4 separate regions of the Homo sapiens genome follow, and all the other regions are linked to region 3. The links come from fine-mapping of genetic effects on gene expression. A gene starts in region 3. Each other region holds a variant in brackets. All regions are shown on one strand. Distances are between the middles of the regions.

Region 1 (8,034 bases), 59 kb before region 3:
CCCCATAAGGCCAAGCCTCACCTTCTGCTCTTGGATTCCATGTGGGACGCTAGCGAAGGGTTTCCATGCAGCCTGTGAAGCCCAATATAAATACGTAAGCCGATGGATTTAGGCCAGATCTAGGGGTCAACCTAATGACTCTCTTAGGGAAACTATGGAAAGGGCCAAGGACAGACCCTGCACATGCTAATCTCAGCACGCATTTGGCCTCCCAGATGCTGCTGAAACCCAAGAGTCAGGAGATTTGAAACCAAAACAAGCAGCTAGGAGACCAGAATCAGATCCCCAGCTGGCCAAACAGCCTTTGGGCATGTAGCTCTAAATAGCACTGATACATGTGAACACCTGCAACAGTTCCTTCCTCGAGGAAGCCAGACCACAGCAAGTCTCTGTGCCACACTGACTCCTCAAAGCTGGCACAGCCCCCCTGCTGTGATGCTTCCTCGCCAGTTCCTTCACCACCCGCTTTATCTTAGTTCCCGACTCACACAGGACACAAAGTAGGAAAGGCACTTCTTATGTTTGTTGAATAATCACAAGCCAACATGCTCCTCCCTCCCTCCTGACCTCGTGATCCACCTGCCTCGGCCTCCCAAAGTGCTGGGATTACAGGCGTGAGCCACCGCACCCGGCTGTATGGTTCTTACATGTATGGATTGCGGTCTCATGTCTCCCTAAAATGTATACAACCAAACTGTGCCCCGATCACCTTGGGCACAGGTCGTCAGGACCTCCTGAGGCTGTCACAGGCGCCTGTCCTCAGCCTTGGCAAAATAAACTTTCTAAATTAACAGAGACCTGTCTCAAATTTTGGGGGTTCACACTTCCAAAGAATGAATATGGAAAAGTGGAAAGGGTAACCTGACGATAGAGAAATCTGGCAAACACTACCCCAGCCACGCCATCACCATTAATCCCATCAGTGATAAACCACAGTGATAGCGTGTGGCCTGGATATGATGTGAGAAGCAGGACAAATCACCTCTGTGGGTTTCCCCGAAAAACCCACAGCCCCAAGTTGTACTGTGAGAAAAACTACTTACAAACCTCAGTGGGGAGACTTGTGACAGAATGTCTGACTAGTGCTTCTCAACGCTGTTGAAGAAAAGGGAAAATCTGGCCGGTCGCGGTGGCTCACACCTGTAATCCAAGCACTTTGGGAGGCCAAGGCGGGTGGATTACCTGAGCTCAGAAGTTGGAGACCAGCCTGGACAACACAGTGAAAACCCGTCTCTACTAAAATACAAAAAAATTAGCTGGGCGTGGCAGCCTGCGCCTGTAATCCCAGTTACTTGGGAGGGTGAGGTAGGAGAATTGCTTGAACCTGGGAGGCAGAGGTTGCAGTGAGCCGAGATCACACCACTGCACTCCGGCCTGGGCGACAGAGCAAGACTCCATCTCAAGTAAAAATAAATAAATAAATAAATAAATAAAATAAAATCTGAGAAACTGTTACAAACCAGAGGAAGCTGAGACATGATGACAAAATGTAATGGGGTGTCCCAGATGGGATCCTGGACAGAGAGAGGACATTAGGGGAACCCCAGTGAATTCTCAATATGGTCCAGGGCTTAGTTAACAGCAACGTCCAACTGATCTCCCGGTTGTGACAAGTATGCAGTAACGTCAGATATTAGTGACAGGGGTCACTAAGTACAGGCTATATGGCAACTCTCTGTATTGTTTGCAACTGTCTGTATATTTTAAACTAATCTTAGTTTAAATAAGAGGTTACACTAAAATCTCTTTTTTTTAATGTAGAGTAGAAAACAAGCATTACAATGGTTGTCACTGGGCATGAGAAAAGGAATGATCTTTCCACATACATTTGTTTGTAATCCAAACAAAATGTAGCCTGGGTACGGTGACTCATGCCTGTAATCCCAGCACTCTGGGAGGCCTAGGTGGACGGATCACTTGAGGTCAGGAGTTCGAGACCAGCCTGGCCATGGCAAAAACCCCATCTCTACTAAAAATAAAAATAAAAATAAATTATCTGGGCATGGTGGCGCATGCCTGTAATCCCAGCTACTCAGCAGGCTAAGGCACGAGAACTGCTTGAACCTGGGAGGCGGAGGTTGCAATTAGCGAAGATTGTGCCACTGCACTTGAGCCTGGGTGACAAAGTGAGACTACGTTTCAAAAAATAAAAATAAATATTAAAAATAAAAAAGCTGTTTTCCTCGAATTATAGGTTGGAAAGTTTTTTATCCTCATCATTGTGCTGCCCAAGCTACTGGGCAATTGAAATGCAGCTGGTCTGAATGCATTGCGAGTGTGAAACACACTAGAGTTCCTAGAATGAAAAAAGAATGCAAAATACCTGGTCAATAGTTTTTATAGAAGTGGTAATATTTTAGACGTCTTGAGATAAATGAAATGTATTATTAAAATTAATTTCATCTGTTTCTTTCCACTTTTGAAAATGTGGCCACTGGGAAATTAGAATTAACATATGAGCTGACTTAAATTTCTGCTGGACGTGATGCTCCGAGGAAAGAATTCCAGAGATGAGGGGCTGGGGTCCCCTAGGTGTCAAGGACGGGCAACCCCCCAGTGAAACAGCCATCCCTGCACTGCAATGTTTCACACACACAATCTCTCAGGGACAGAAAAAAGACACAAGCCGCTGCAAAGTTACAAATTTATTGGTCTGGAAATAAATACAAATATCTCATTAAGAAACTCCTCTGGAAAGACTTGTGCACAATAGTTTCCCATCCGTACTCAGCCTCTCTTGCCCCGATCCCCGACTTTTCTACTCAAGGCCAGGGAAGGCCTCCAAGGTGATGGGCGGCAGGTAACGAGTCATTGCCTCTCACGCCACCTGGAAGGCTGGACTACTTCCTCCTCCCAACTGCGGGGTCCCAGAAATCCTCGGGTCCCAGTGGCTGACTTACAATATTCAATTCACTCTGACCAAACTTCCTATGAGAAAATCCACGGTGAGCCAAAATGAAAAGTACAAGGCAGTAGTACAGGAACCTGGCAGCCGCACTGGCCGCCCAGAAACGTCAGTGGTGCTGCCCCATTCGGCGAAAGGTTAGGGAGCAGGAAAAGAGGAAGCAGGAGAGGGAAGGAAAGTCCCATGGAATATGTATTCCAGAATCCTTACATTTTCTCAGCCACCGCTCCCCACGTGAGTTCCCACCCCCACCCCGACAAGAGCAAAGAGTTCTGAGGATCCAAGAACGTGACCGGGTCAGACAGGTTCAGCTACTGAGTTCACGTTCCAGCCCAGCTGTCGAAGATTGAAAACTGGATTTAAGCCAATCACACAAAATTCCTGGAACCAAGCTGGGATCCACAGAAATCACAACTGCACTGGATCTCAACACAACAACAAGGAATCCCTTACATCGAGTAACCCCAATTCCACCCCCACCCCAGTGCTCCTACTCCGGCCCCTGCAAGGACACTCATCACAGCCAGGGCAGCTGTGGAATGTTGCCCTCCATTCTAAGGAATGCAAAACAAATCTAAATGATCTTCTCCCTGAACAAGAATAATCACTGGCTCATGTATCAGGGGTGGGAGGTTGGGGCTGTGGAGGAGAGGCAGAAAGCAGAACTAAAGCCTTCAAAAACCATGATGCCCAACGTTTGCTGAAATATTTTTGTCTGTAAAGCCAGGAGATTTTGT[C/T]GCCTGCTTTTGCTGCACATTAAGAGGATGCTAGAAAAATCAAGCTTGTTTGCTTCTGCATTCAAAGCTTTCTAGATGCACCAACTTTAAAAATCGGTTTCTTCAAGTTAACTACGTAGATTTGTTGTTCCAAATGCCTCTAGCCTCGACATGAATCCCACCTTTTCCCCCTTCCTGTTTTGCCTGTTTAAAAGAGGTGCCTGCATGTCACTATTACCCCCCTCCCCAAATGAGAAAAGGATTTTGTTTCCGGAAACTGGATCAGCTTCTCCTCAGTTAAAGAGGAAACGGGAAGTGGGCGGCTGGCCTTCTGACCAGGCACCCGTTTGAACCAGGATGCTCAGGGCGGCCTAGGCTTGGCTTTGTGAAGTGTGTGCTGCTACGCGTCTTGTTTTTGGCAGTTTGGTGTCTCTGAGGGAGGGGAGGAGAGTGGCAACCGGCCACTGGTTAATGGAAGAGGATGCGATGCGGAGATGCTTGCTTCCTTCCTTTGGTCCACCGCCACCCCGCCTTTGGAGAGGGCACCCACGTAATAGACCTCATTTGTCTCCACCAGAGCTCACTCTTACAAAATAAGCTTTGGATTAATACCGAGTTAGGCGCAGTATGGCAGGCAGGGGGCGAAAAGGGGCCGGGGAGGAGGGGGCCACTACAGAGATCAGAGTCCGGGGGCGGCAGCTGGGCAGGCCGCCTAGCAGGAGACCTCCATGGACTTGGGCCCGGCGCTGTTCCCAGCAGCACCCGAGTTGGGGGTGATGTCCAGGTGGGCCCCCTCGCTGGTGTGCGAGCGGCTGCGGGTGCCCTCGCTGGTGTGGGAGCGGCTTCGGGTGCCCTCGCTGGTGTGGGAGCGGCTGCGGGTGCCATCCAGAGAAGTGACGCTGGAACCAGAGGCTGTGCGGGACCGCATCAGGCGGGTCATGCTAGCCGAGGGCACTAGGGGAACAAGAGACAGCCGGTTAGAGGGCAGGAGACTGCCAGGTGAGGAGCCAGGCATGCCCGTCCACCAGCCACATGCTCTTCTACGTGCCAGCCCCAGAGAAGACTTGATCCCTGCAGCCATCCAGCTGCTGGGCCCCCGTCCTCTCCATGTCCACTCGGAGAGAGAGATGGCAAGGCCCAGATGCGGGAAGGAACTGCCGCAATCACACCATGAGTGACTTGAACCCAGATCTGGGTCTGAACCCCAATTCTGCCACCTGTTAAAAGCTGTGTAATTTTGAGAGTGTCCCCCTGAGCCTCCCTGTTCCCATCTGTAAAGCAAGTATGTTAAATACTGACCCCTGGTATCAGCACCTGTGTGTACGCCCATGACCCCATGCTGTCCATGATCACTGGAGCAGGGAGGACACCTGGGGTCAGTGGCCCTGCACATCACAGGTGGGGAAAGGGAGAGGGGCCACACGGCAAGTTCCCGGCATGGCTATTCGTTGTCATCTCTCCCAAAGAAGCCTGTCAGCCCAGGTGCTAACAAGGGCGCTGTCTATTCTTTGGGATCTTCTCTGAGACCTCAAATGCTCTTGCACATGGCACGTGCAAGTGGCACATGCTGATGGGGTAGCACGTGCTGATGGGGTGGAATGAGGAGGAACAATCCTGCCCACCTGTACCGGGTGGGACAGTGTCCCGGAAGATTCACACCTACCTGAAACTTCAGAAGGGAACCTTATTTGGAAATAGGGTCTTTGCATATGTAATTAGTTAAGGATCTTGAGATGAAATCATCCTGGGTTGAGAGGGAACCCTAAACCCAATGACTGTGATGTCCTTATAGAAACAGCACACAGGGATATGCAGGGGAGAAGTCCACGCAAAGACAGAGGCTGAGATTGGAGTGATGCAGCCACAAGCCACATAAAGCCAAGGATTGCTGGGGCCACCAGAAGCCAGGAAGAGGCATGGAAGGTTCTTCCACAGCAGCGTTGGAGGGAGCAAGGCCCTGCCCACACCTTGATTTTGGACTTTAGGCCTCCTGAACTTTGAGAGAATGGATTTCTATTGTTTTCAGCCACCCAGTTTGTGGAGATTTGTTACGGCAGCTTTAGGAAACTAGTACTCCACCCAACTGAAGCATCATGGCTAGGAGGCCACACTGAGTCAGACATCAGAAACAGGGGCAGTTGATCCACACCAAGCATGCAGGGCTTATGTTATCTCCTTGATAGGCACAGGGAGGGGCTTTTGATGTCAGGCACTCCCAAACAGAATTAATCCTTGCTGAATTGTCTTAAAGAGCTAGTTTTGAATTCAGAAAGAATTGGGGTCAATGCCACATCCGCAGCTCACATATTTCTCTGAGCCCCTACTTCTCACCCACAAATCTGGGATGTCTACTGAGCAGGATGAGAAGCGTACAGTGAGCACTGATGCCAGGTGTGCAAAGGGTTCATCAAGCCAGCACCCCGTGGTGTGCAGAAGGCCAGTGACCGGTTCCTTTCCTTCTCTTTGGCTGATGCCTTTGAGACCATAGCTCTTCCTGTTATTTTCCCCCCAAGACCTGCAGGAGGCTTCAGCTTTCTGGTAATAGAAGCCGATTTGGGGAGAAAGATGAGGTCTAGCATTCACTTCCTTTCTCTCCAGAACACACTCTCAAAGCAGAAATCCAAACCCTGGCGGGACCAAGACAAATGGGAGCCACAATTCACACCGTGCAGGGTAAAGCAGGACTGCCCCGCGGCTGTCTCCATGGCTGTCTCCAATGACAACCTTTGCCTGCAACTTCCGTCGGGGAAAGCAGGCTAGAAAGGCAGGAGCCCCACTAGCAGATAGCTTCTGTTGGAAGAGGGCACCTGGGGATGTGGATCCTGCCTGAGCCTGAGGCATGGAAATCAAACCTGCCAGCCTCGCCTTGCTAGAGCTAATCATGGCTAAGGCCAATGCTAGGACTGCAGTCAGCTTACCAAGCATACTCTTACTATACATGGGCAAACAGTTTAAGGAAATGATAAAAGGGATCAGAAGTTCAATAACTTCCTAGTAAGGGAGGACACACGAATTATAGTTCCAAGCAGTAGGGTCAGAAGAGCCACTAGTCATGTCAGGGCCGGACCATGGCTGACAGGCCCACAGCACTGAGTGTGGCTGCTGTTCAGCCGAGTTACAACTCGCCAGGGTCTGTCCTAGTCCTGGGACAGCACTTCTGGAAAAAAGGCTGTATGTGTCTAACAAACTATAACTGCAAAATAAGAACGAGTGAGTTCCTGAATGATGCTTCCAATGTATCCTCCACTTCCCAAAGCTCATGACTTGACTATGGCATGCTCCACCTTGAATGTAAGCAACTTTGTTAGCCACTTCCACAGAGCTTCACAGTCTTCAAAGAATTTCCACAGATCCGCCCTCTGCTCCCTGCTTACAACCCCGAAGCCTCAGCTTCATCACTGATAAGATGGGCTAAGAATATGTCAAAGGAGTACTGTGATGGTTCAGTGAGATAAAATAATGTGTTAGTAATCTTTCATCATCATCGACACCATCTTCATCATCACTGTAGCTAGTGGTCTCTTAAAACTTGTGATCAAAATTTTTAAAAATGTTATTGTTTCACTGTTGGTCATTGTCTTGGTGCTTAAAGGGACAGTCCTCATCTAAACCCCCCAAAATCCCTGGTGTGAAACAACTTCTATTCAACAAAGGAGGAAAAATGAGCCTCACTGATAAATGAGAGGCTAGATCCTCCAGGCTGCCACATGCCCTCCACACACCTAACTGTTTCCTCCCAGAAAGCTGAAGCTGGCCAGGGGGACACAGAATTGCTCATCCAAACCTGGCTCAGGACAGAGCACTTCCAATTCCGACACATGCCCCGACCCACTGCACACGGGGAATGCCATACTCACTGTATCCCATGCCCTGCACGAAGTACTTGAAGGCCTCAGCGAGCTTGGCCGGCTGCGAGAGACAAGGAGAGAAAATGCAGTCAGTTGCTGGGGAGCCAGATCACCCGAGGCCATGGGGGGCTGTGCCTGTGGTCACCTTCATTTGAGAGTTTGGCTCAAGACAAAAGCCATCACGTGTTGACAGGACAAAACACAAAAGTAAGAGTATGGGACAATGATGGGAAATTCACCCCACAGCTGTGGAACTTGGACAAGTTACATGACCTGTCTGAGCCAGTTTCCTCACCTGTAATACAGGGCAGAGTATCACAGCTATTTCTGTGTGTTTCTGAGGAGATTACCATCCACAAAGGGACATGTCTAACCCAGCAAGTGGAACATAACTGCATCGGCATCATGAGCCACTCCCAATGCAAGGGGCTTTGCTGCGTTCATTCATTTACTCCTGACAACCCCTCACGAGGTCAGTGCTACCTTAGATACATTTCATAGCTGAACAGATTTGGACAGGTAAATCCACTCAGGGTCCCACAACAAGTAAGTGGTGGGTCCTGTA
Region 2 (8,034 bases), 77 kb after region 3:
TGACAGTTTCCAAACCACAGGTTGGGGGCATAGGCAGGAGGGGAACATGCTGAGGGAGAGGGGCAGGGGATTGCCATAGCCTGGGAAAGTTGGGGACAGGGAGGAGGGAAGAGAAGAGGAAGCAGGAGGAGGAGGAAGGAGGAAAAGAGAGAAAGGAAGAGGAGGAAGAGGGAGAGAGGAGAAAGAGGAAAAGAATGAGGAAGAGCAGAAAGGAAGGAGGAAGCTTAATGCATATAAAATGCACAGTGAAAACAGGGTTGACTGAGGTTCAAATGTGCCTCCCCGGGCAGGTCTTTCTCCAGCTCAGCTCTGGCTTCCCAGGGCCTTGTTTCCAGGTGCCCCTGTTCCAGGCCCACAGAGAGGCTCTTGTGTGGCTGATGCAAGTCGGCCATGGAGAAGCTGTTTCCAGTAGGCTCTTTGCTGGTGGAAACCTGCACCTGCCTAGGGTCTGGTACCACACTGTGATGGGCAGCCTAGCTGTGGGCCCAGATTCTGAGGCTGGCTTTGGCACCAGCTGGCTGTGTGACAGTGAGCAGGCTACTAGGACCTTTTGAGCCTCTATTTCTTCCACCATGAAACAGGACTAGTAATTCCCAAGCCACAGGGAACTTATCAGGGTTAAATGAAATGATGGAAGCAGAGTTTGGGGTACAAGGTGGGAGGGAGCTAGGAAAATGGTAGCTCTTTTCCTGTGAGCAGCATGGTGACAGCTCAGAGATGTGTGAATGCAGCCCAGGACGTGCAGTTCCTCTTGCCGGGACTTGTGTAACTGATGGGATTTGTTGGGTGATCCTGTGACCTGTAGAGCAGGAAGGAGCTCTGGCAATGGGGAGTACGGGGGAGAAATCCATAAACCAGGGAGCCTAAAACTGCATGGCAGAAAGTTCTGAGCATCAGAGATGATGTGGCTAGTGCCACAGTCTGAGAAGTTCCCATTTTGAATTCCAGAGTCTTTGGGGAAACAGAATCATAGGTATGTGTTTCTAAGGTGTCTTTCTATTCCAAGTGTCAGAAACTCAACTCAAATGGACTTAAGACACAAGGAAAATACTCTGGCTCATGTGGCCCAAAATTCTGAAGGGGCTGCGAGCTTCAGGCAGGGCTGGATTCAGATATTTAGACATTGTCATCAGAATAGCATGTGTGTGTGTGTGTGTGTGTGTGTACGTGTGTGTGTGCATGTGTGTGCGTGCATGTGTGTGCCTGTGTGTGCACACGTGTGCTCATGCATGTATCCATGTCCATGTGCCATGGCTCTGCTCTCCTTTATGTTGTCTTCAATGTCAGGCAAACTTCCCAAGCAATGATTAAGTTTCGGTCTCGCAGCAGCTTCAGGCTTGTATCCTACCCAGTTACCATTTCCTATAGAGTTTCAGCAAAAGCCCTCTGGGCAACTCTCACTGGACTGGTTTGGGTCATGGTCCAATTAGAGTCAGTCACAATGACCAGGGAAAGGAATGTTCGCCATGGCCAGATGCACTCGTTGGCTAAATAATGTATACGCACCATCATCCCCTTCTCCTATGTCCACATGCTAATCCCTGAAACCTGGGAATGTGTTACCTTCTATGGCAAAAGAGGCTTTACAGATAGATTTAAATTAAGGATCCTGAGATGGAGACGTTCTCCCCATTTGTCTGGGTGGCCCTGGTATAATCACAATAGTCCTTATCAGGGGAAGTTGAGAGAGAAGAGGTGGCCTTGGAAGCATAGTTTGAGCCATGGTTTGAAGATGGAGGAAACGGCTTTACCAAGGAATGCAAGCAGCCTCTAGAAGCTGGGAAGGTCAAAGAAATGATTCTCCCCTAGAGCTTCCAAGAGGGAGTTTGGCCTTGCTGACACCTCTTGATCCAGCCAAACCCATTTGAAACTTCTGATGTCTGGAGCTCTAAGAAAATACAGTGTTGGCGCACCTGTAATCCCAGCTACTCAGGAGGCTGAGGCAGGAGAATCGCTTGAACCTGGGAGGCGGAGGTTGCAGTGAGCCGGGATGGCACCACTGCACTTCAGCCTGGGTTACAGAGCAAGACTCATTTCAAAAAAAAAAAAAAGAAAGAAAGAAAAAATACACTGGTGGTATTGTAAGCTGCTAATTTTGTGGCAATTTGTTACAGCAGCTGTGGGAAGCTCATGAACCAGGCTGGCTCACGTGTGCATCTCTGGAGGTGGGGCTGGGGGACAGAGAGAGTCCCCCAAACTAGATGGACTGAGTGTGAAGGAGGGACAGGAACCAAAGGCAAACAAAGCCCCTTTACCAAAGAAAGGGGGGGTAGGAGATGGGCTGGCGAAAAAGAAGGCAGAAGTCACAAAGATACAGAGGCATTGTGGGGTTCCTTTCGTAGGAAGTTCAAGATCAGGCAAAACAAGCTCATGGAAAGAAAGGCTGGGGTTGCTTCTCAGAGAAGGGCTAGATATTGACCAGGAAGGGGCACCAGGAGTCTGCGAAGCCGGGGAATGTTCTCTGTCTTGACTTCAGTGGTTGCTTCATGATGTATACATATGTAAAAAATTCTCACTCTTAAGATGTACATCCACTTAAGATGTACACACTCTGTGCATTTTTCTCTCTGGGTGAGTCATTCCTCAATTAAACAGCAGTTATTGAAGGGATAATTCATGGCAGCAAAACTCTGCCATTTGAACCCAATTAGCTGTCTTCTCTGTGCCATAATAATATTCATTCATCTCAATCTTCACTCATTTGACAGAGGAGGAAACTGAGGCCCACGTGGTGAGGTGCAGAGCACAGGCAGAGTCATGTAGCCAGACCCAAGCCTGTCTGCCATGCCCTTCCTCAGCTCTGACTGCTTTGAGCTGGCCCAGTGTCCTGCTCTGCAGGCAGGGGTGGGTCCTTCACCGGCACTGCCCCCCCCACCCCTGCCGCCCGATGTCACAGTTACTCCTTGGGGCCTCCTGGGGAGAAAACATGAGTCTCTTCTTTTTTTCAGTGCTTTTAGGCTGCTAGAAACTTCCGATCCCTCACTCACCTCTGCGCTCACTCACCTGCTCTCACTCACCGTCTGCTCTCACCCACCTTCCGCTCTCACTCTCCTTCTGCTCTCACCCACCTTCTGCTCTCACTCACCTTCCGCTCTCACTCTCCTTCTGCTCTCACCCACCTTCTGCTCTCACTCACCTTCTCAGGATCTGGTGCCCAGCTGGGGTCTCACAGCAACCCTTGTTACTGCCCCTATGGAAACACAAGACCTCCTGGGGCAACGAGGTGAGGGTGTACCTACTCTCAGCATGCCTTTTGCTATCCACTCCCTTTTATTCATTCAACAAGCATTTCCTGAGGGCTCAGGAATTGGGGGTATAGCTGCAAACGGGGCCTCAAGGGCCCTGCCCTCAGGCAGCTGACAGTCTAGACAGGAGACACGCAGTAGCCAGATGAGAAACCATATGACTCCACAGATTACCCAGGCACCTGCCATGTAAGGGGGAAGCCACCTGGGCACCCAGGAAGCCCCTGCTGCTCACAGCCATCCTCTCCTCACCTTCAGCACACACTTTGCCTTAAGAGGGAGAAGGAAACTAAGCCGGGGGTATTAAATGAGGTCCCAAGTCCTCCATCATCCAAATCCTCTGCATGGCAAAGCCAGGCTTCTCCCCAGCGAGAATCAGGTGCCCTCCCTGCTCCAGGCTGGCCCGCTGCAGTCAGCCTCCTCTGAGCCAGCCTCAGCTTCTGACTTCACGGAGGCCCTGCCATCTGCACAGCACATGCCCTCAGGTCCAGAAGAGACTGGGCAGAGCAGGTGTTCGTATCCATTTTTCAGACCTGCAAGCTGTGGCTCAGAGAGCAAAGAGTCCCACCCAGGGTTACCGTTGCTGGTGGCAGGGCCTGGCACCTCACATCCATGCACCTTGGGGTAGAATTATAGGCCTGTCTCCTCCACTGAGCTGGGCTCCAGGAGGGCTGGGGCAGGGCCTGGGTTCAACTCCTAAACCCCAAGTGGGCCCTTAGCTGGGACCTGGGAAACCAGGGTCTTTTCCCCGTCGGGGCTTGCCCAGGCCATGGGTGCTTGTCACTGCCTGGCACAATCCCAAGGCCACTGTTCCAGGCTGGAGAAGGGGAGGGCAGTGGGAAGGCTGAAGGCAAGGGAGGGCTGAGGCTGGAAGCCACCTCCCATCTTCCTCCCACATGGAGACGTGCAGCACCTCACGCCCCTCCCAGGAATCCCTCAAGGCCCAGAGGTGACTCAGCAACACGTGAGCTAAGCTGTCCGAGCTGTGCCCCACCTCTTGCCAGATGCAGAGCCCAGTGGG[G/T]GGAGGGAACGTGCCACCCGCCACGTGCACCCCTGCAGCAGCTCAGCCTGCAGCAACAGAGCCGCCCCTGCCTCTCCCTCCCAATCTCTCTCTTCTTCTTTGTGGGGACCTCACATGTTCCTTCTGCCTCCATTCAACCCTCACCTCGCTCTACAGGCATTAAACGCAGGACTGGTAGTTTGCTGTGCTGATGGTGCCACAAAAGCTACCTCCTGCAATCCTCTCTGCAATCCTGCCAGGCCAAGTGGGGAAACTGAGACTCAGAGACAGTTTGTGACTTATGCAAGGAACCGAGATTCAAACCTAGCTCAGCCTAACCCTGAAGACTGTGTGATTTCTCTTTCATGAGCCATGCTGAGTGGGATCATTGACAAACTCTACCCCCTTTTGCGCATTTTACAGAGTGGGAGGGAAGACTGAGGCACAGGGAAGGGAGGTGACTGGTGGGGGAGGGAAGGGACCAGCATAATGTTGTCCTAGGACAGAACGGTGGCTCTCTGTGTCCCCAGGGCACTGTGGCTGACACTGGGACAGACTCCCTGCCCTAGGAATGTGTGGTGAATGAATGAGTAGGTGCTGGGTGTGCTCTTTCAACGTGATGGTCACAGGCCACATGCGGCTATGGGGCACTTGACATGTGACAAAGAAACTGAATATCTCATTTGATTTTATTTTAAATGTAAAATATCAATACTGTCTACAGTTGATATATTTCAAGACATACAGCATCATTTGCACCATGCTTTAGCACTTGCAGAGCAGTTTATAGCCTCCATCTGCTCTTTCGATTCTCAAAACTCACCAAGACCCACATCTCCACTTTCCAGAAGAATGTGAAGTTCAGAGAGGTCAAGAGACTTGCCCAAGATCACACAGCCAGGAAGTGGCAATGCCAGAGAACCTGGCCACCCTGACTGTCTGCCAAATCCCTTTCCACTTTGTGCTTTAGTCACAGTTGCAAGCGCTTATATGGCAGGTCCACCTCTCAGTGCTATGCCTGCATTACCTCAATGATTCCATCCATTTCCCTAGGGGAAAAGGACACCAGTGTTAAAGTTCTAAGATGAGGAGACACAGACAAGCTGAATTCTTTGCCCACTGCTGCCTGGTTAGAAATCAGCAGAGCTGGGGTTTGCATTTGAGGTTCTGGAGCTGGACTCCGACCTTTGTTATTACGTGAGTGGCCTTTGAGTGGTGTGTGGGGCGTGTGGAGTCAGCAATGCTCCTGTCGCTGAGCACCTTGGGTGACGCCTGAGTCTCTGAGCACTGGGAAGCCACTGGGAGGTGTTAAGCTCAGACCATGGGACTTTAGGAGAGGGCTCTGCTGAGGTCTGGGGAGGGACAGCTGGGGTGAGTTCAGGACAGGCGGCGCAGGGGGAGACTGCTCAATAGCCAAGCACTGGCCACAGAAAGGAAAAAACAGAATGACTAGTTAAAGGACTTGGCTGCAAAGTCAGGCTGTGCAAGGATGCTGTCCCAGCACAGATAGGGAAGGGACACAGCCCGGAATCCCAGGCGGCAGCCGCACTGCCACGTGGAGGAACAAGAAGGCCCATGCAGAATGTGGCTGGAGGCAAAGGTGCATGGTGAGGAACAGGCGGGGTCTGTGGGTGGAGCCCCCTATGGTGCAGCAGGCTGCTGCCCAGGGCCGGTGACCCAGCAGGAGGACACAGAGACTGCAGACAGGAGGCTCCAGGGCACAGGGTTTCCACATGGCTCTGTCCTTGGTGGCCTGAGGCCCCCTGTTTAACTCCAAGCTGCAACTGCAGCCTCCTACCCAACCAAGAACACCAAACATACCTTGTTGCAGGTTTCAACCAGACATACCAACGGTGACAGGGAAGATGCCTCCACCTGCATCTTCCACCTGCTCATGGCTCTGTGACCATTCACTTTAAGAGAGGGACAAAAACCTAAAGGGAAAACAAATAAAAAGCGTCAGGTGATTCTGCTTGTAAAAGGCTGACGTATGATTAACTTTGAAGAAGGCTTAAAAGTAGCTTTATTGGGTAACAGGACAAAAAAATACTTATTTAAAGGAACTACTTATTTAAAATTGCAAACCTCCCACACACCTCATGCCCTGTTCTTTCCCATTTCTCTTCCTTTGTGGCACTGATCAGGGTTTCATATGCAGCTTTATGTAAGATACAAATTTATTTTGCTTAAAGTCTATCTTCTTCTATTGGAAAGTAAGTTCCATGAGAGAAGGAATGTTTTGGACTTTCTTGTTCACCATTGAACCTTTGGAGTCTAGAATTGTGCCTGGCATATAGCAGGTGCTCCATACGTTTCTGTTCAATAAATGAACGAAAGGGTGGCAACAAGAAAGCAACGATGCAACAGTGATAACGTGGCACCCATGGAAGGAGGTGAGGAAGCATCTGTGAGGCCAGCCAATCACCGGGTGTCATGCATGTGACATGCATTCGGGGGCTGCTAGGGACCAGCCCTGGGCTAGAGCTTTAGAGAGGTTTCAGGCGAGAACATTGTCTGCTAAGTCACAGTATCTGGCTAGTCTCAGGTGAGGCACATTAAGCTCAGCTCAAGGCCATGAGCAAGGTGATGAGCAGGTTTGCCTGCTGCAGGCCGGGCTAGCCCGGCTGTTGGCAGAAATAGCAGGGAGAGCTGCCCTGAGCAAGGAGGGGAGGGGCTTCCTGGCCTATTTTATGTGCTGGCCATTCCTGTCTGCTTCTCCCATACCCCACCGAGCTTCCCCTTTTGCCCTGGAGACAGTCATCAGTGATTTGAAGCTGGGCTGGTCACTGCAAAGAATCCGGAATCATTTCTAGGAGTTAGAGCTGAGAAGAAAGTGATGAGATGCAAGAGGCAAGACAATGCCAAGCTGATTGTGGTGGACACAGAGTCCTAAAAGGGGCAGCTTGTGCCACAGAGGGGCCAGCAGAGCCATATCTCCTCTGTGAGTGCGCTTCTGTGTAAAACAAGTACCACAAGTTCTAGAGTCAGACAGGGCCACGTTCAAATCTACCGGTGGCCCTTCCGAGCTGTGTGACCTGGAGCCAGGTACTTTTCCTCTCTAGACTCTGGTTTTCTGCACCTGTGCATGCATGAACATGTGCCCACACATATACACACACACACACATGAGAGTGGTATATTTTTGCCTCACAGGGCTAGTGTAAATATTATTAAATGGCATACATATAAAGCTTCCCTTTCCTGCTTTGAGCTCAACTTTTAAATTCTTTTTAAAAAGATTAAAAATCAATAATCAAGTGATGCACACGTATTGCAAAACAATTATTAAAATGAGATAATCAAGAAGAAGAAATTTAAAATCACCTGTCATCACAAGAATGAGAAGACAAGCCACAGGCTGGGAGAAAATATTTACGAAAGACATGTCTGATAAAGGACTGTTATCCAAAATATACAAAGAACTCTTAAAATTTAATAAAGAAACAATACAATTTTTTTTAACGGGCAAAAGGCCTGAACAGATACCTCACCAAAGGAGACACACAGATGGCAAATAAGCATATAAAAAATGCTCAACATCATAAGTCATCAGAGACTTGCAAACTAAAGTCTAATGAGATGTCACTATTAGAATGGCCAAAATCCAAAACACTGGCTGGCAACACCAAATTCTGGAGAGGATGTGTGGAGCAAAAGGAACTCTCATTCGTTGCTGGTGAATTAGTCTGTTCTCACACTATAAAGAATACCACCTGAAGCTGGGCGCAGTGGCTCACACCTGTAATCCCACCACGTTGGGAGGCCAAGGCAGGTGGATCACTTGAGGTC
Region 3 (8,034 bases):
GCAAACACCTACACGCTGTTTTCCACATGCTCAGTGCTGTTCTCAGGTTACACAGATTAATATTTACACATTCTGATGGCATCATGTCTGTTACTCTCATTTTACAGAAAAGCAAACTGAGGCATGGAGCTCCTGACTGCCTTTTCATTTGAGCCTGATTTCTTCAGGCGCCCCAACATGTTGTCATGGAAAAAAAACAAAGGCTCTGAAGTCCAACTGTCCGGGTTCAAAGTCTGGCTCTCCCACCTGAGCCATATGGCAACAGGCAAATCCTGAAACTCTCCTGGCCTCAGTTGCCTCATCCATTCAATGGAGCAATACGATCCAGGCAACGTTCTTGCGAGGATGAAGGCAGATGGAGGGAGACAGTGGCTGCTCTGGAGGGAGAGAGATGTCGTGTCCCTCCCTGGCCTTCCTTCCAGGCTGAGTCAAACCTGAACCCTGCTTGAGTCTCAGATGCTGAGTCATCACGCTTTCTCTCCCAGGACAAGGCCTCTGAGTCACATCTGGAATGGGATTCTCTGGGGTTGGGTCCCAAGGAAGAACTGCAGCTTTGGGCCACCCGAAAAACACAATGCTATCTTTCTTTCAGGTCCATGAGGAGGCAAGTTCAGGCCAGCGGATTTCAACGTAACCCAGGGGGGCCCTCAGCTCAGTTGAGATCTGTCTTCTGTCATGGGGGGGGGGCAGCCCCATTCAGTCAAAGGCCAACTCAGGGGGCTGCAGCCTCTAAGCCCCTGCCCTTCAGGCTGGCTTTGCTAATCTCTCAAGAACACCTGATTTACACTTAAAAAAAATCATTCCGCTCTGCCCCTTTGGCCTCAAAAGTTTCCTCACCAGAAATTCAATGAAGATGCAATTTCCTTTCGCCCCTCCATAGCAGGCAGGCAAAATCCTGCCAGGAACCCTTTCCACTGCCTTCAGTCCCACCCAGGAGCCTCTCACAAAGCTGAGCTCCAGCTCAGTTCGGCCTGGGCACATCCCTCCCCATCCCTGTGCCTCATTTTCCATCTGTAAAATGGAAAGAAGTTGGACTAGGTAGGTCCTGTGTGAGTTTTTTATTCCATTCCAAATGATCAAACTTTGTTGCTCCAAAAGAACTTCCTCACAAGAGACCCAAACAGACACTCCAGGATCCCTCAAAAGCAAAAGCCAACACCTCCACCCATGCACAGTCTATTACCTCGCCCGAAACTCAACCTGCTGGTTCACAGGAGAATGGGGCAGAAGACCCAGAGCCATCCACTTCATCCCATGTGCATATTTCAACTCCTCCCACCTGCCAGGCGCTGGGCCAGGGGCCAGGTTACAGGGCAGGGCAGGCAAATCCTCCTCCTTGCCCAGATGCAGTGGGAGACACGGTCCCACAAAGCTAAGAAGTCACAGGTCAGGGGAACACCCAGTTTTCCATCCACACCAAAACCCTCTCTCTCCCTTACACCTTCCTTCATCCCCGACACTGTGCCACCCCAGCCTGGGGCTGGCTCTGCCGCCACACACACCACACAGAACCGGTCTGCGTCTCCAGCCGTGTGTCTTCCCCACCAGAAGGCAGCCCTTCCAAGAAAGGCGCTGGGGTTTGCCCCCTCTGTACCTTGCTTATTTCAATCACATTTGTGAAACTCAATAAGAACGCCAGAATTTCTCAACAGGAAGAGTCTAGACTGAAAAATTCGCCTTGAAACTACATTTCTGCAGCAAGAACAGGGGGTTTGTATTTAGATATGTTCTTTTGAGGCAGCTTAGGAGAAGGTCCCGTGCAGCTGATGGGTATTATAAGGATGTCTACCGCCCTCCTGCCTGGCCACTGGCTGACTTCTGAATATTAGATATTTCCCAGTAGCTTAAAGAAACCAAACAAACTGAAGTGCCCCCAGCGTCCGTGAGGAAGGGGTGTTCTTGGATGGGCATAAGATAACCAAGGGCCCTGCCTCCCCCACCCACTGCCAGGCATCTCCCACTTCCAAGCCACAGAGGCGTGCTGTTCAGGACCCCCAGGGACAGCAGGGACAACAGGCGGGGGATATGGGGGAGGGGTGGGTAAGGAACCGACCCACTAAATCCCAGCTCCAGCTACTAATTTGACAGAGGCGTGACAGCGTGTTTCCCCCAGAACCAGCCGCATTCCCCAAGCCCAGCCCGAAATCTCCTCCCGAGGCTGAATCAGAGACCGCGGCGGATCCCCCAGGAACGTCGAAGTAATTCCAGCTGTTTTCCCCCGTGGAGGGCAGGAGCGGCCAGCACCAGAGGCAGGGGAGGGGAGGAAAGCGGGGGAGGGTGGGCGGAGGCGAAAATGACGCCACTCCTAGCTCCAGCCAGCTCAAGGGGCCGCCAAATGTCCGCGAGACCCCTCTCGCCCAGGTCACTTCTCCCACGCCGCCGATGCGCCAATCCCGGGTTCCTCCGGGGGCGCACCCTGCCCAGTGGCGCTCGCAGACACTTGCTCCGGCTCGCGTGTTGCACTGTGACACACCCTGGACCCTCCCCCCACACACACGCTTACACTCACACATGCACACCGCCCTGTGTGTGCTACGGGACTGAAGCGCCACCAGCCTCTCGGATCCACACCCGTTCCCGACCCAGTCTGCAAGCCAGACACACCCACGCCCCCCTCTCCAGCCTCCTTGCCAGCGCCACTCACCTCTACCAACCCCTCATCTACACACTCGCGCGCAATCTCTCCGTTCCCAGACACAGACACACACACACACACACACACACACACACACACACACTCACCTAGTCCCTTCTGCACCCACGTCCAGCGCGCACCCCTGCCAGCGGCGCCAGCTGGGATTCGGAGACGACGCCAGGAAACGCTATCCTGGTATTTTTTCGGACCGTCTCATCGCCCCCTTCCCGACCTCCAGAACCCCAATCCCCAGCTAGGGGGGAGATGAATGGGACCCTGTCTTTTTTTCCTCCCTTTCCGTAATTGAACCCCCCACTTCAGCGGTGTCTGCACCCAAAGCCCCCTCGCGCCCGCGCCCCGGGGTGACCGCGCACTTGCAGCTCCGGGGCGCTTACTCCTGGAGTACGCGGGGCTACAAAGGGCGGTCCTGGCGCTCCAGCGGCACCGCACGGGCGGCCCCTTTCTGCTCCGCGTCGCGCCTGGGAGAAGAGGGCGCGGGCTTACCTAACGCGAGGGAGAAAGGAAAGGACGGTGCCGAGGCTGGCGGCCCAGCGCCCCGCGGAAGCCGAGGGCGGATGGTGAACTGACGAGCTTCAGCACCAGCTGGGAGCCAGGCGAGGTTTGTTTACGTCCGGGCGGAGGGCGACTTTATAGGCGCCGCGGCCCCGCCCCCGCGCCTCGCCCCTCCCAGACCCTCGCAGTCCCAGCACGCAGCCGGGACACACCCCTTCCCCGCTCCCTGCTCCCTCCTCCCGGGCGCGCCGGGCTGGGCTGGGCTCCGGCAGCGCGCGGCGGGCGCCCACTGGAGCCGCCGCCTGTTGCGCAAGCAGTCGTAGGGGCGCGGCCGGGAGGGGCATCGGGGCCCGGGTTGTGGGTCGGCTCTGCAGTCCCCTCCGAGTCCAGGGCCTCGGCCTGTGCAGCGGGCGCGTGTGCCCTGCCCGGAGGAGGCGTTTGTGTGCTTGTGCGTGTTCATGTGCGCGCTCGTGCGTGTGCATGTGGACTTCCTTGTGTCTCCGTATGGGCGGAGGCCCCCCATCTCTGCCTCAGAGTTTCTTCTAAGAGTCTCGTTGCGCCACGCCCTGAGCGACTCCCTTCACTTCCTGTAGGTCTCACCAGCTCGGCTCTCCAGCCGGATTCGGCTGCCTGCCCAGCAGCCGCCTTCGCTTTCGCCCGACAGGCTCCCTCCGATTCTCAGCCTTCCGTGTCGCCAAAGCTCTCGCTGAAATCCTCGCTCCCGTTTAATCTCGTCCATCTTGCCCACCGCCGCCCAGCGCTTACCCTTCCCCTCATCTTCCCAGTTCTAAGCACACTCACTGGACCTTGCCCACTGGGCTCTTCTCTCCTGCCCCACAAGCCCAGATGAGAGGATTCTCACCCCTTCCTATTCTGATTTCCTGAACTTTCATGACTCACCCTTTCCAACCTTAGCACCGTCCTGCTCTGCTGCTCTGTTTGTGCGTAACTATTGGCCTGCATGTTCCCATCTGGCCAAAGAAACCAGCAATTCTCAACCCCTACTGCATATGAGAAGTCCCAGAGGAGCCGCCAAATTAAAAAATAAATAAATAGATAGATAATAAAAAGAGAGAGATGGACTCCAGAACAGTTTAATCAGAATCTCAGGGGGTGCAAACCAACTGGGCATTGGGGTTTTTACAAAGCTACCCAGGTGGCTCCTGACGTGCAGCCAGGTTGAGAAGCACTGCATGGAGGAACATGATTTTATGAATAAAGGAAGTCTGACTCACAGCTGGCACCGTCATTGTCCTCAGGCCACCTGCCCAGCGTTGAATTTGCCACTGAGCCCAGGACCAGACCCAGGGCAAGCTCAGGTGACCCTCCCTGCGCCTCCACAGACACACACGCGCGCACGCACAACACTTCCTGCTGAATTGTAAACCTCTTTTCTGTGCCAACCCATGCTGTCCCCAAGGCAGGGGCCATGGCTTTCCCCTCTGATTATTAGGGCCAGTTTTGGAGAAGGGTTTTCTGGAACAAAAGAAATATGGAGAGGGGCAAACAGCACCTCTAGGACCCAGGACATCTGTGTTTCAGGCCTGTCTTTGACACTATCGATCACAAATCAACAAATCTGGGCTTCAGAATTCTCACTGGCAAAGGGAGAGGATTAGATTCAATGATCTTTCAGAACCTATCTAGTGCTAAAGCTCTGTTATTCTATTACAAATGACCAGTGTGAAGAACAGAGTTCCAGTGTCATGGGTTTTGCTGCTAGAAGAGTTTGGCTAAACTACAAAGTTTGGCTATTAGCTATGAAGTTTGGCTAAACTACAAAGTTTGGCTACATTCAAGAATGCCTTGAATGTAGGAGCACATTCCCCCACCCTAGAAAATTTAACATCTAGAATTAATAAGTGAATGAATGACCACTGGGCAGTCTTCCATTCTTTATGGATTTGAACTAGTTCAACTGCAGCATTCCCAGTGAGGGAAAATTTTTCTTATTTCAAATAAAATGTTGTGTCCAGGTAGAGTGGCTTACACCTGTAATCCCAGCACTTTGGGAGGCCAATGCAGAAGCCTCTCTTGAGTCCAGGAGTTTGAGACCAGCCTTCACAACATAGTGATGTCCCATCTCTACAAAAAAGATGAAAGCTAGCCAGGCCTGGTGGCAAGTACCTGTAGTCCCAGCTACTTCAGAGGCAGAGGTGGGAGGATTGCTTGAGCCCAGGAGTTCCAGAAAAGTCTGAGCAACATAATGAGACATCATCTCTACAAGAAAATAAAAAATCAGGTGGGCTTAGTGGCATGCAGCTGTAGTTCCAGCTACTTGGGAGGCTAAGGCAGGAGCCTTGCCTCCCTAGGCCCTGAAACTTATTTATTCTGTCATTCCACAAATGACAGAATTGAGCTGCTCTTATGAGCTGGGTCCTGTACTCCGCCACTGGGAAAGGACTGAAAAGGCAAAAACATTTTCTACAGGTGCATAGCATGGTACAGCCCCAAGACGCAGTTTCTCCATCCATACAGCGTGGTTGAGATGAACTCATTCATTCCCTAACTATATTAAGGACCTACTATGCCCAGGCACCATTCTAGACCCTGGGGACATGATCATGAACAACAGCAACAACAAAAGTGCATCTCTGGGAGCCATCCTGCTGTCTAAAGACCCTCCCAGATCAAGCAGCCTGTGTGCCTGTTATCCTTTAGCCAGCTTACACATACCCATTTTCCCATAGGCTCCCCATTGCGGCGATTTATTGAGTGAGCACCTTTGGTTTTTTACCTGCTAAAGATACAAGAGTGTCAAGTTCAAAAGTGCGGAGTGTCAAGATAAGGAATGTCAAGTTCAAAGGCGCAGGGAAGGCGGCCCACTTCTTCAGTAACAAATGGAACTAGTGCATGGAATTAGAAGGGCATTTTGCCAGGGGAGGCCCTTGCCTGTCTCTTTGAGGAGGTCCTCAGGACAGAATGCGAAGAGCAGCCCAGATTTGCAGCTTGAAACCCCGAGGAGGTTGCCTGGCAGGAGGCTGGGCTTGTGTGGGAAGCCTAACCTTCTGGAAGACCATTAGCATTGAATAGGTCAGAAGACAGAGGAAGGAGAGTGGAGTGAAGAGAAAAGAGCAGAGAAGGGAGGCAAGAATTTGAGCAATGGAACACAATTTTCCAAGTGATGGCATTCTAAAATCAGAGTCCACATCACCTTGGAGAAGGCCTGAGGAAGACACCATTTGGATTCCACACTCCCCTCCCTCAGCCCAACACAGCCAATTTTCCTTCCCTGTTGAAAAGGATGTTTTCTTCCGCTGAGCACCAGATGAAGTAGTTTTCTTAGCTAAGTGTCACGCTGCAGGAGAAAGACTGTCTTTAGTACAGGCCTGGATGCACATAAAGCATAGAGGACGCCCACCCTATACAGAGGCCCCTCACTGGGACCTGGGAGCTGCATGCACCTCCACATCCCCCACCGCAGCCAGCTGAGGTGGCAGAAGCTCACGGAGCTGAATGTGGGTGCAATTGCACTGACTGTTTACATTATTCCTCTTTCTCGCTGGTCAGCAGTAGAATCAGATTTGCTTAGTAAATGCACACGCGCTGCAAATCCGTCACAGGATGAGATTGGATTTTCTGGACTAATGTCCACTGGAAATTTCTACTTAACAACAACTTAGATTTTATACTAGAATATTCTAACCAAATGTTCCAAAAATGACCATAGGAATCACCTGTTCCCAACTGTCTTTCTTAAAACTCATGGGTACTCGGGGTTGGGAGAGACCAAGATGCAGCAGGGATTCATGGAGAAGAACCCGGTGGTCTGTGGCCCCCAGCTCCAACTTCACCACTTATGAGCTGTAGTACCTGGGGCAAATTACTCCACCTCTCTGTGCATGGAGGAAACGAGTGAGAGAAACCATCAGACCTTTCAATCACAATTTATGGGTCTACTGCTGCAGACCATCATCTTTTCTGTCTGTCAAAATGAAAAAGTGTCCGTAAAAGTGTCTTCCCACCTCCAGTCCTGGGCTCCCTCGGGACCCCCTCTCTCCTCCAGCATCCATCTCTCCCTTTCTTCTGGATCAAACTAATCAACAAGTAAATATTCACTGCAATCAATGACCCACCCTAAACCAATCCCCTCTTAATTCCAAGCCCCCCACTCCTGTACTGCAGCCCAATCAACAAGTAAACATTCACTGCAATCAATGACCCACCCTAACCAATCCCCTCTGATTCCCAAGTCCCCCATTCCTGTACTGCAGCCCAGTTCCTCTCACCCCTTCCTCCCTAAACTTTCCAAAACAAGCATCTGTACCCAAAGGCCCACCTCATCTCCTCTTCCTTTTACTTTGTAGTGATTATCAAGTTTTTCTTGAACCTGGTCAAATAAGTCTTCAAAACTTGTTAGGAAAAACAACAGCCTTTGTCTCCCCACTTTTCCACTTCCCTATCCCCAGAAGTCACCACTCTCTGCTCTTGGAGAATTATTTCTATCTTATCTTTGCCACTTGCAGACTCTATGCTCTTGGGCAAGTTATTTCATTTCCTTCCTCTGCCTCCTCATGTATAAGATACACATAACAATACAGGGTCATTGTGATAAATATATGTGTTAATATATGTAAAGTGCCTAGAACAGTCCCTGGCATATAGAAGGCTCTCATTAAAGTGTTCACCCTCATCCTCACTGTCATCATCACCATCATCATCATCATCATCATCATCATCATCATCTTGTCTCATCCCTCCTGGCATCTTGCACACCTGACCGTAGAGAAGTTCAGTAAATATTGGTTGAAGAACTGAGCAAATGCAGATGTTTCTCTTTGAATTCATCCCATCTTATTCGGTCTTACTGCTTGGACTCTGTTAGGAGGGAAAAGGGGATCCTACCTGCTTCATGATCCCAGGTGGAGGGACTGCCATCTGGGATT
Region 4 (8,034 bases), 82 kb before region 3:
TTTCCCTTCCCAGCTGGCCTCTTGTGTCCATCATATTTGCCAAAATAAAGATGAAGCTGTTGACTGGGGGATGGGAATGGGGATGCTGGGGAGGAGTGCGGGTTGGTAGAGTGGAGTGTGTATGTGTTGGGTGGGGGGTCTCATTGCCCTGACAGCAAAATAAAAGGGCTCCTCCATGTAGGGCTTGTGCTGGCAAAGGAAGCGCCAACTCACTCCCCAAGGGCTGGGGCCCATGTAGCTGCCAGGAGCTATAAAGTTGAATACCTGCCGCTGCACCACGCCAGCCCTTTCCGGATGCTCAGAGGGGAAAAAAATAATAATAGGTCAGCGGGCCGAAACCGGTATTAAGTAGGAGTCCTCTGACTCAGAGAGGCCTTAAGAACTCTCGGTGAGTGAAGGAACTGGCCCTGCAGGTCGTCACAGAAGAGCCATGGGATCCGAGCCCCGCGCAGCCACATGACTCACAGCCAGCTTCCACCTGCTCAGGGCCTCGGCTTTCTCCCTGTAAAGTGAGGCCACCTCCCTTACCTCGGGGCTGCAGCGACAATCACTCAAGAAAGGAAAGGAGCAGGGTCTGAGGTGGAATTTGGGCCCCACCGCTGACCAGCGGAAGGATTCGGGCAATTGGTTTAACTTCGCTGCATGTTGGGCTCCTCTGTTCTATTTGTTTTACTGAGAATAAAGGAGATGTTTGGCTATCAAAAGCGTGATAGAAAAAATAATTTTATGAAAACCTTTTGAACAGCATGAGGACAGGAATGCAATGGCAGGGCCCTTTGGGCGTTGAAACCCCTGTCTCAGCAGCCCCCCTTTCCCTCTGCCCTCCCCCCGCAGGCCCTCTCTCCAGCCCCTACGACCATGGACTTTACCCCAGCTCCACTGGAGGACACCTCCTCACGCCCCCAATTCTGCAAGTGGCCATGTGAGTGCCCGCCATCCCCACCCCGCTGCCCGCTGGGGGTCAGCCTCATCACAGATGGCTGTGAGTGCTGTAAGATGTGCGCTCAGCAGCTTGGGGACAACTGCACGGAGGCTGCCATCTGTGACCCCCACCGGGGCCTCTACTGTGACTACAGCGGGGACCGCCCGAGGTACGCAATAGGAGTGTGTGCACGTAAGTGAGTCCTCCATACCTTCTGACCAGCCCCTGAGCACCCCCAGCTCTGGCCCCAAACCCCTCTCCCTTGGCACCCCCACAGCCTTTCACCTGGCCAGGCTTCCGTTCAGCAGGAGATACACCCCATGATCAGAGGCCAGAGGCTGGGTCCTTCCTGGGAAGGGGAGGCAAGGATGCCTGCACTCTTCTCGCCTCCAGAACTTTGCTTCTTGCTTTATTCTCAGTCCTGGAGGCACATTCATGGCTGTCCCCAGGGAAGAGGGAGACGCCATGAAATACCTAAGCCTGGTTTTGTTCTCTTAGTGGTAGGATCTTTTAACAAATGTCCATGGCCTACTAGGACACACCAGCATACTGCAGAACTCCAGATATTTTGGTAATATTGTAAATTAAAAAATATGGTTTTAAAAATCCAGTAGCCTTGAAAGAATGAAAATCAGCAGCCTGCAGTCATCCCTTCCCACCAGCTACCTACATTTCTCAGTTACTTCAGTCACTTAAATTTTCTAGTTATTTCTTCTGAAATATAATATAGTATATTATAGAAATATACTATATATTCTATATAGTATAGAAATATAATATAAAGATAATATATACACTATAAATATTATCTTTCTAATGAACTTGAAGAACAGTTTTCACAGGGGGAAATATACTACATATACACTATATATAGTAGTTAAATATACTATATATACACTATATATAGTAGTTAAATATACTATACACTATATATAGTAGTTAAATATACTATACACTATATATAGTAGTTATATATACTATATATACACTATATATAGTAGTTATATATACTATATATACACTATATATAGTAGTTATATATACTATATATACACTATATATAGTAGTTATACATACTATATATACACTATATATAGTAGTTATACATACTATATATACACTATATATAGTAGTTATATAAACTATATATAGTATATATAGTAGTTATATATAACTACTATATAACAGTAGTTATATATAACTACTATATATATATAATTGCTACTATAAAATGTATGTGTTCTGCTATATATTAATTGCCTTGATATATCAATTTTTGGATAATATATTAATATTCTAAGATAGCTGATGATTTAGCTCCTCAATAACCACCTGATATAACCCCTACCTTCCAAATGACATTGCCATAATTTTTGATTATACAATCATCAGTACTTATAATATTATGACCAGGTAAATATTGTTCACTGCAGTATGAGATCAGGAACTGGCTTTAATTCACTTCCTTATGATGCTTTTGTTTTTCCTGGACTTTCTAATGGCCTTTGCTTTTTCTTTATTCTTGGTGTATTCTGATATCCTCCTGTTTGGAGGTGGTTGTTGTTGTTGTTGTTGTTGTTAGTTGTTGTTTTCTTTGGTCTTCAAGTGCTCCATCACGGGTATTCTATCCTTTTTTGTTCCAAGACACCTCCTTTATGAAACTTTCTGACCCCCTGCTTCTGTCCGGACTTGTATTCCCTTGAATTGTGTAAGCATTACCCAAAATATATGACTCATCAGATTAAGAGAGCTACCTAGGTATTATGATGCAGCAGCCTAACTTCTGAAAACTTCCACAAAGTCTCATAAACCCAAAAACTCCCTTCTTCCCTTAGTGCTGAATCAAGCCTTCCCCTTAACTATGACTCCATATACACCCCGTCACATAGTCACACACAACGTAGTCTCTCATCCTCAGCTAACCATTATATTTTTTGAGGTGGATTGTCCATGAGGGTTATGTACATCATTTGCAGTCAGACAATTTTATTTTATCTGAACCACATGGTTAATTTATGACAGTTTCTTCTCTTTTATCATTGGTTCATGCTTCAACTTTCACACGAATCCTTGTGTCTTTGGCTTTCTGTGAATAACCATCCCACTTCTCCCATCTTTCTAATTTTTCTTCTTTTACTGAAACTCATTAGCAGCCACATAAATGGTATGTTCAAAGAGAACTTGCAGCATCCGCTGCACAGAATCATCTGATATGTTGATTATAAATGTTATTCTTGAGCCCCACCCCAGACTTGTTGAATCAGAGTCTCTGGAAGTGGGAATGAGGATCTAGTCCTTTAA[C/T]AAGACTCCCAGGTGATTCTCATGCATGCTAAAGTTCAAGAATTGCTGCTAATATACTCAGTCATCTGTTCCCTCCCCATAACCCAGGTAGGGAAACCTGGCCTGGACTTCTTACACTAGAACCACCTCCAGTTATATGAGCTTGTCTCATAATTTATTCTTCCAGTAAAAACTGTTCTTCAAGGTCATTAAAAAGATACTTCTTTTCACTACCATTGCATTAATCTCTAAAGCTGTATTGAGATCTTGTCATCTGCCAGGCACCACTCATTTATAGATGTTCTGTCATGGATCCAAAGATTGTGTGAACCCAGAAACTGCCTGTCCTGCCTGCCTTCCCCACCGGTGGCCTGGAAAACCCCCTTCCCTGTCCTCCTCACCCCCTATCTCTGCATCTTAGGTCCTGCCTTGACCCAGTACAGCCACTTAACTTCCCAACACCATGGGCTTCTGTGTACTTCCTTTCCTTTTATTTGAAAAAAACAAAAACTGTAGGCTAAAGGAGATTGTAATAGATTTTACGCCTACCAGTGGTTCCCTGGTCATGAAGTTTTACAAGCATTGAGATAAATAAAGCTAACCAGGAGCTATAGAAATTCTCAGAGGCTTCAAATTTTCATGTCCATTGCCAAATTCCAAAAGAGAGGTATCATAAGCTTCATAATAAATTTTTTAGATGTATTTAATACTAAATTTTTTCAGTCAGATAGTTCCTTACCCACCCATTACACTACACACACACACACACACACACAAACACACAGTTATACATATACACATCACACACATATGTGCCCACACATGCACAAACACAACTCACTAGTGCTCTATTGAACATGTTCCCGGAAGTGCTACCATAGTGTCTGAATTCATGAGACCCTAATGCAGGAAAGAAGAGAGTGTGGGGTCTGCAAAAGAATACACCTCTGGGCCAGAGGGTAAACAGAACAAACGGTTCCTCTAAGAAACAATCTTTCCACAAATGGTCAGCTAAGCAAATGGACAGTTCCTAGGACAGGCTAAATCTGTCCTTAAAGATTTGCATGTAATTAGACCAGAACAAGGCAGGTAATAAAAATGAGCCATTGCAACCCTGGCTTATATAACTCAAACAGAGTATGATGGGGACAATGGCAATCTGGTGTGTGCAAGCCCTGGCTTTCAGAGATGACCCTACTGGGCCCAGCCACTCTGGCCAAGCAGAAAAAAGCTAGGTCTTGTTCAGCATGCTTAGTTTTCAAGAGAATCCAGGTACATAGATTTGTGTATGATTTGTAAACATTGGCAATACATTCAAAAATATTTTTAAAACCACTCTGTGGGCCAAACTAAATACATCTGTGGGCAGAGGGTGACCTCTGAGTTACATCATTTGGCTATTTCAGTTGCACAAACACTACTCTACGTTTAAATGAAGCTGGGTCAGGCCTGAGGTCAGTGTGGTTTGGTGGAAGGATTATGATATTTACAAGCTGACAGACTTGAGTTTTAGATCCTGGCTCTGCCACTTGCTAGCTACGTGACCATGTGCACATCACTTAAGGAGTGTCATAAAACCAACCTCACATGCTTGTTGCAAAATAAATAAGGAAATGTCAAAAAATAAAAATAAAAGTAATTGGCTGCTCTTGGCTTGCCTTGCAAGGAAAGTTACCTCAGTCTTATTCACGGCCACCTTTAGAGGAGGGAGCAGGTCTAGCTCCTGGCCTAGATCCCCCATACTGAAGAGTGAGGGAGTAGTAAATTCATGCATGCTCTTTGGACCTAGACAACCCAGCTGGAATCCCAGCATCATCACTCACTATTACTATGACTTTAGGCGAACTACTTAGCCTTTTAAGTCTCAGTTTCTTCTTCAAGGAAAATGTGACAAAGAAAGTTTATATCTCTGGGTGGTTAGAATGTCAAGTGCCTGCTACATGGCAGGAGCTGAATAAAGAGTACAGCTCACCCCAGTTCCCATCCATCCATCCCTCCATTGATTCTTCACACAATAAACATAAGTGAGGCAGCAAAAACAAACAGAGCTACAACAAGGCATGGCCCACTGTCCCTGCTGACAGCGTGAGCTGACAGTCCATGGGAGGTGTGAAGGGAGGGAAGGCCCCGATGGCAGAGCAAGTTGACTTGAATTCCTGAAAGTGCTTCAGTAAGAGGAAAGCTAACTCGATCACACCTGCACTTGCAGATCTGAGATTAGATAGGAGGTAGTGAAGGAAACCCAACTGTCTTCACCATCTCGCCTTTGATTAGTTAGAAACTTAATGAGTCAGCTGAAGGGACCATCTGCAGCCGTCATGCATCCCACTAGCCTGTGGTGGGCAGGCTGGTCAGAGCCAGTAGCAGCATCTCACTTCCCCACCCAAAGCCCCAAGGAGAGAGACTGGCGCGCCTTCTAGTTGCACTGGTTTTCAACCTTAGCTGCAAACAGGATTCACCTGGGGAACTTTTAAAATACGGAGATCAACAAAAGAAGAATACTGACACCCAGGTTCACCCCCATATTCTGAGGCCTGGCATGAGCATCACAATTTTTAAAAGCTCCCCAGGTTCCCCTGGGGTTCCCCTGTGCAGCTGGTAGGGAAAGCCACTGTGCTGGGGACTCCGGGCATCTAGCACTGACCTCTCCCTCCAAAGTCTCCACATGCAGGGACAGAGTTCCGGGCTTAGCCCACTCCCTTCTCCACACACACACACACACACACACACTCTTCCTGGAGAGACAGCGTGCAGGCAGAGGCAGGGTGACTCAGAATGCAAAGATGAGTGATTCACCCAGCGCTTCCTCTGCTTTTTTTGCCTTCCTCTGTCCCCTCCTTCACTGGTGTCTGGTGGCAGGAAATGGGCTGTGGAGTCAGGTCTCCTGGGTTTGAGTCCCAGCTGTATCATTCAACAGTTTCGTGACCTTGAACAAACGAATCATTTAACCTCTCTGAGAGCTTTCCTGTCCATCAAAGGAGAAAAATAAAACTCTTCATGAAGTCATTGGGAGAACTGAATGAGATAATGTATCAGATGATACCTGGCACTAGATCAGAGGGTCAGTTGATGTTAGCATCTTTCCTTTCTGCACCTCCTGCACGGATAACCGCACCCCAAAAAAAACAATAGCCGCAGCAAGGTTCACACAAACCGGGATTCTGCTTCCCGCTGTGGTCACCTTGGACGCTATGTGTCTTCACCTTGCTGAGACTTTGTTTTGCTATATATAAAGACAAAGATGATAATGTGATAGTGTTTCTGTACAGAATAAAATAAGTAATGCAATGCACAATACAGAGGAGACCCAGTATCCAATAACAGAGACAGTACTTCGAAAACCTTCATGCCTGCTAGACATTAGGATTACTGCTATTATTAACAGCCACCTTCGGGCAAACCCTGAAGGACAGAACTGTTGGCCCACTGCAGATTCCAAACTGCTTCTCCTTGGGTGGCCACTCATGATGTCCGGGGCTCTTTACCTGCATTTCCAGAAGCTGTCCTCCAGAGAGAGCATGGTATCAAGGGTGATATCTGGTCCAGAAGTCCCCAACTCTCCCTGACTCCAAACTGGCTTAACTAACTCCACATGGCCACTTGGTTGTCAACCAGCCATCTCACGCATAATGGAGAACACTTGAGTCCACCCAACCCAAACCCTGCTTGTCCAAAGAGGACAGAGCATCTTCCTCCTTCTCGACTCCTCTCCTTTCCCCCGCACAGCCCCTCTGTCAGTAAGTCCTGGCAGCTCTCCTTCCAAATCTGTCTGGAAGCCGAGCTCTTCTCTTTCTGGCTTCAGACCGCTCTCTCCCACCTGGGTCTCAGGGTGGTCCCCCATGCTACCTTTGCCCTCTGACTCAGCACCGTGAGTGTTCTCATGTCCTCAACTCAGCACCATGAGTGTTCTTGCAAAGCATACTTTTCATCATTCATTCAGCAGTTGCTTACTGAGCACCTACTATGTGCTAGGCTCTAACAGCTTTGCACTTCCTCTGAGCCTACAAGGAAGCCTTCTCGGACCTCCTCTCCTTCCCTTTTCCTTCTTGTCTCCCCTCCTCAGACCTCTCCCACAGCCCAGGCTTGCTCCCACCTGTGGTCTTTTTACTTAAGTGGGCCCCTCCCTACCTGGAAAGCTCCTCCCCCAACCCCTGGGCGGGCTTCCTTCCTCACCTCCTTCAGGCTTTGCTGAGCGTCATCACCCAGTGAGGCCTTCCCCATCCACCTGATTTAACCCTATTCCCAGTTGCGCTGAGAATACTCACCAGCAGCACTAGAGGCTGCAGCATTTACCCCAAAATAATTTTGCCACAAAATATCTCACTTTTGTTACTCTATTCACATCATTCTAGAATACCAACTTTGAAAAACAAAAGATATCATTCTATTTACAGCATTGTGTTTTTTTAGGAGTGGTATTTCCATTTACAAAATATAGTAATTCTCGATCACTGAAAATGTCAAATCCTAGAAAACCCAGCATTCCTATGCATAATTGTTCTTCAACAGTTGGCTGGGATTCACTTGATGAATCTGATTTTTCTGAAATAGATTATTCTGATGATTCAGACAATTCTGATGTTAGTTCTGTTTAGAAAGAACTCCAAGAAACAGTTTTTATATTTTATTTTTACATGGAAAATCAGTCAGATTTGCTTTAACCTCAAAAAGTGTGTTTATGTAAAATTAAATGAGCTCTGGCAGCTAGCTGAACATTTTTTTCTAAACAGGGAAAGGGTTATTAATAAATTTGCAACTGTCTCCCCCCGCCCAACTCCCCCTCCCTGCTCCACTTTTCTCCCAGACACTTGTAACTGCCAACATTCCATATG

Alleles and levels. Alleles are on the strand shown, and positions count from the first base shown. SD is a standard deviation of normalised expression in the study named. Not every link is listed here.
As copies of T replace G in region 2, the expression in lymphoblastoid cells of the gene that starts at base 3,258 in region 3 goes up (small effect, 0.38 SD a copy in GEUVADIS).

The links.
Region 1: its variant is fine-mapped to the expression of NDRG1 in whole blood (TOPMed, PIP above 0.99).
Region 2: its variant is fine-mapped to the expression of NDRG1 in lymphoblastoid cells (GEUVADIS, PIP 0.92).
Region 4: its variant is fine-mapped to the expression of NDRG1 in whole blood (INTERVAL, PIP 0.97).

Annotation. Positions count from the first base shown.
Region 1 is chr8:133,234,545-133,242,578 of GRCh38, forward strand. NDRG1 (N-myc downstream regulated 1) reads right to left here. Exons shown (of 16, transcript NM_006096.4): 15 at 7,479-7,530; 16 at 2,631-4,575. The coding sequence ends at 4,334. Among named protein-coding and RNA genes, the nearest start is that of CCN4, 48 kb to the left of the region's middle. RefSeq lists an enhancer at 469-538. The variant C/T (reference allele first, on the strand shown) is at 3,643.
Region 2 is chr8:133,371,490-133,379,523 of GRCh38, forward strand. LOC105375771 (a long non-coding RNA gene) reads right to left here and starts at 6,179. Exons shown (of 3, transcript XR_001746096.2): 1 at 6,067-6,179. RefSeq lists an enhancer at 4,181-4,260. The variant G/T (reference allele first, on the strand shown) is at 4,267.
Region 3 is chr8:133,293,995-133,302,028 of GRCh38, forward strand. It overlaps NDRG1 (N-myc downstream regulated 1), which reads right to left and starts at 3,258. Exons shown (of 16, transcript NM_006096.4): 1 at 3,140-3,258. RefSeq lists an enhancer at 1-942 and a silencer at 3,139-3,588.
Region 4 is chr8:133,212,030-133,220,063 of GRCh38, forward strand. It overlaps CCN4 (cellular communication network factor 4), which reads left to right. Exons shown (of 5, transcript NM_003882.4): 2 at 835-1,114. It overlaps LOC102723635 (a long non-coding RNA gene), which reads right to left and starts at 958. Exons shown (of 3, transcript XR_428405.3): 1 at 870-958. RefSeq lists enhancers at 1-946, 5,674-6,873 and a silencer at 4,575-4,664. The variant C/T (reference allele first, on the strand shown) is at 3,224.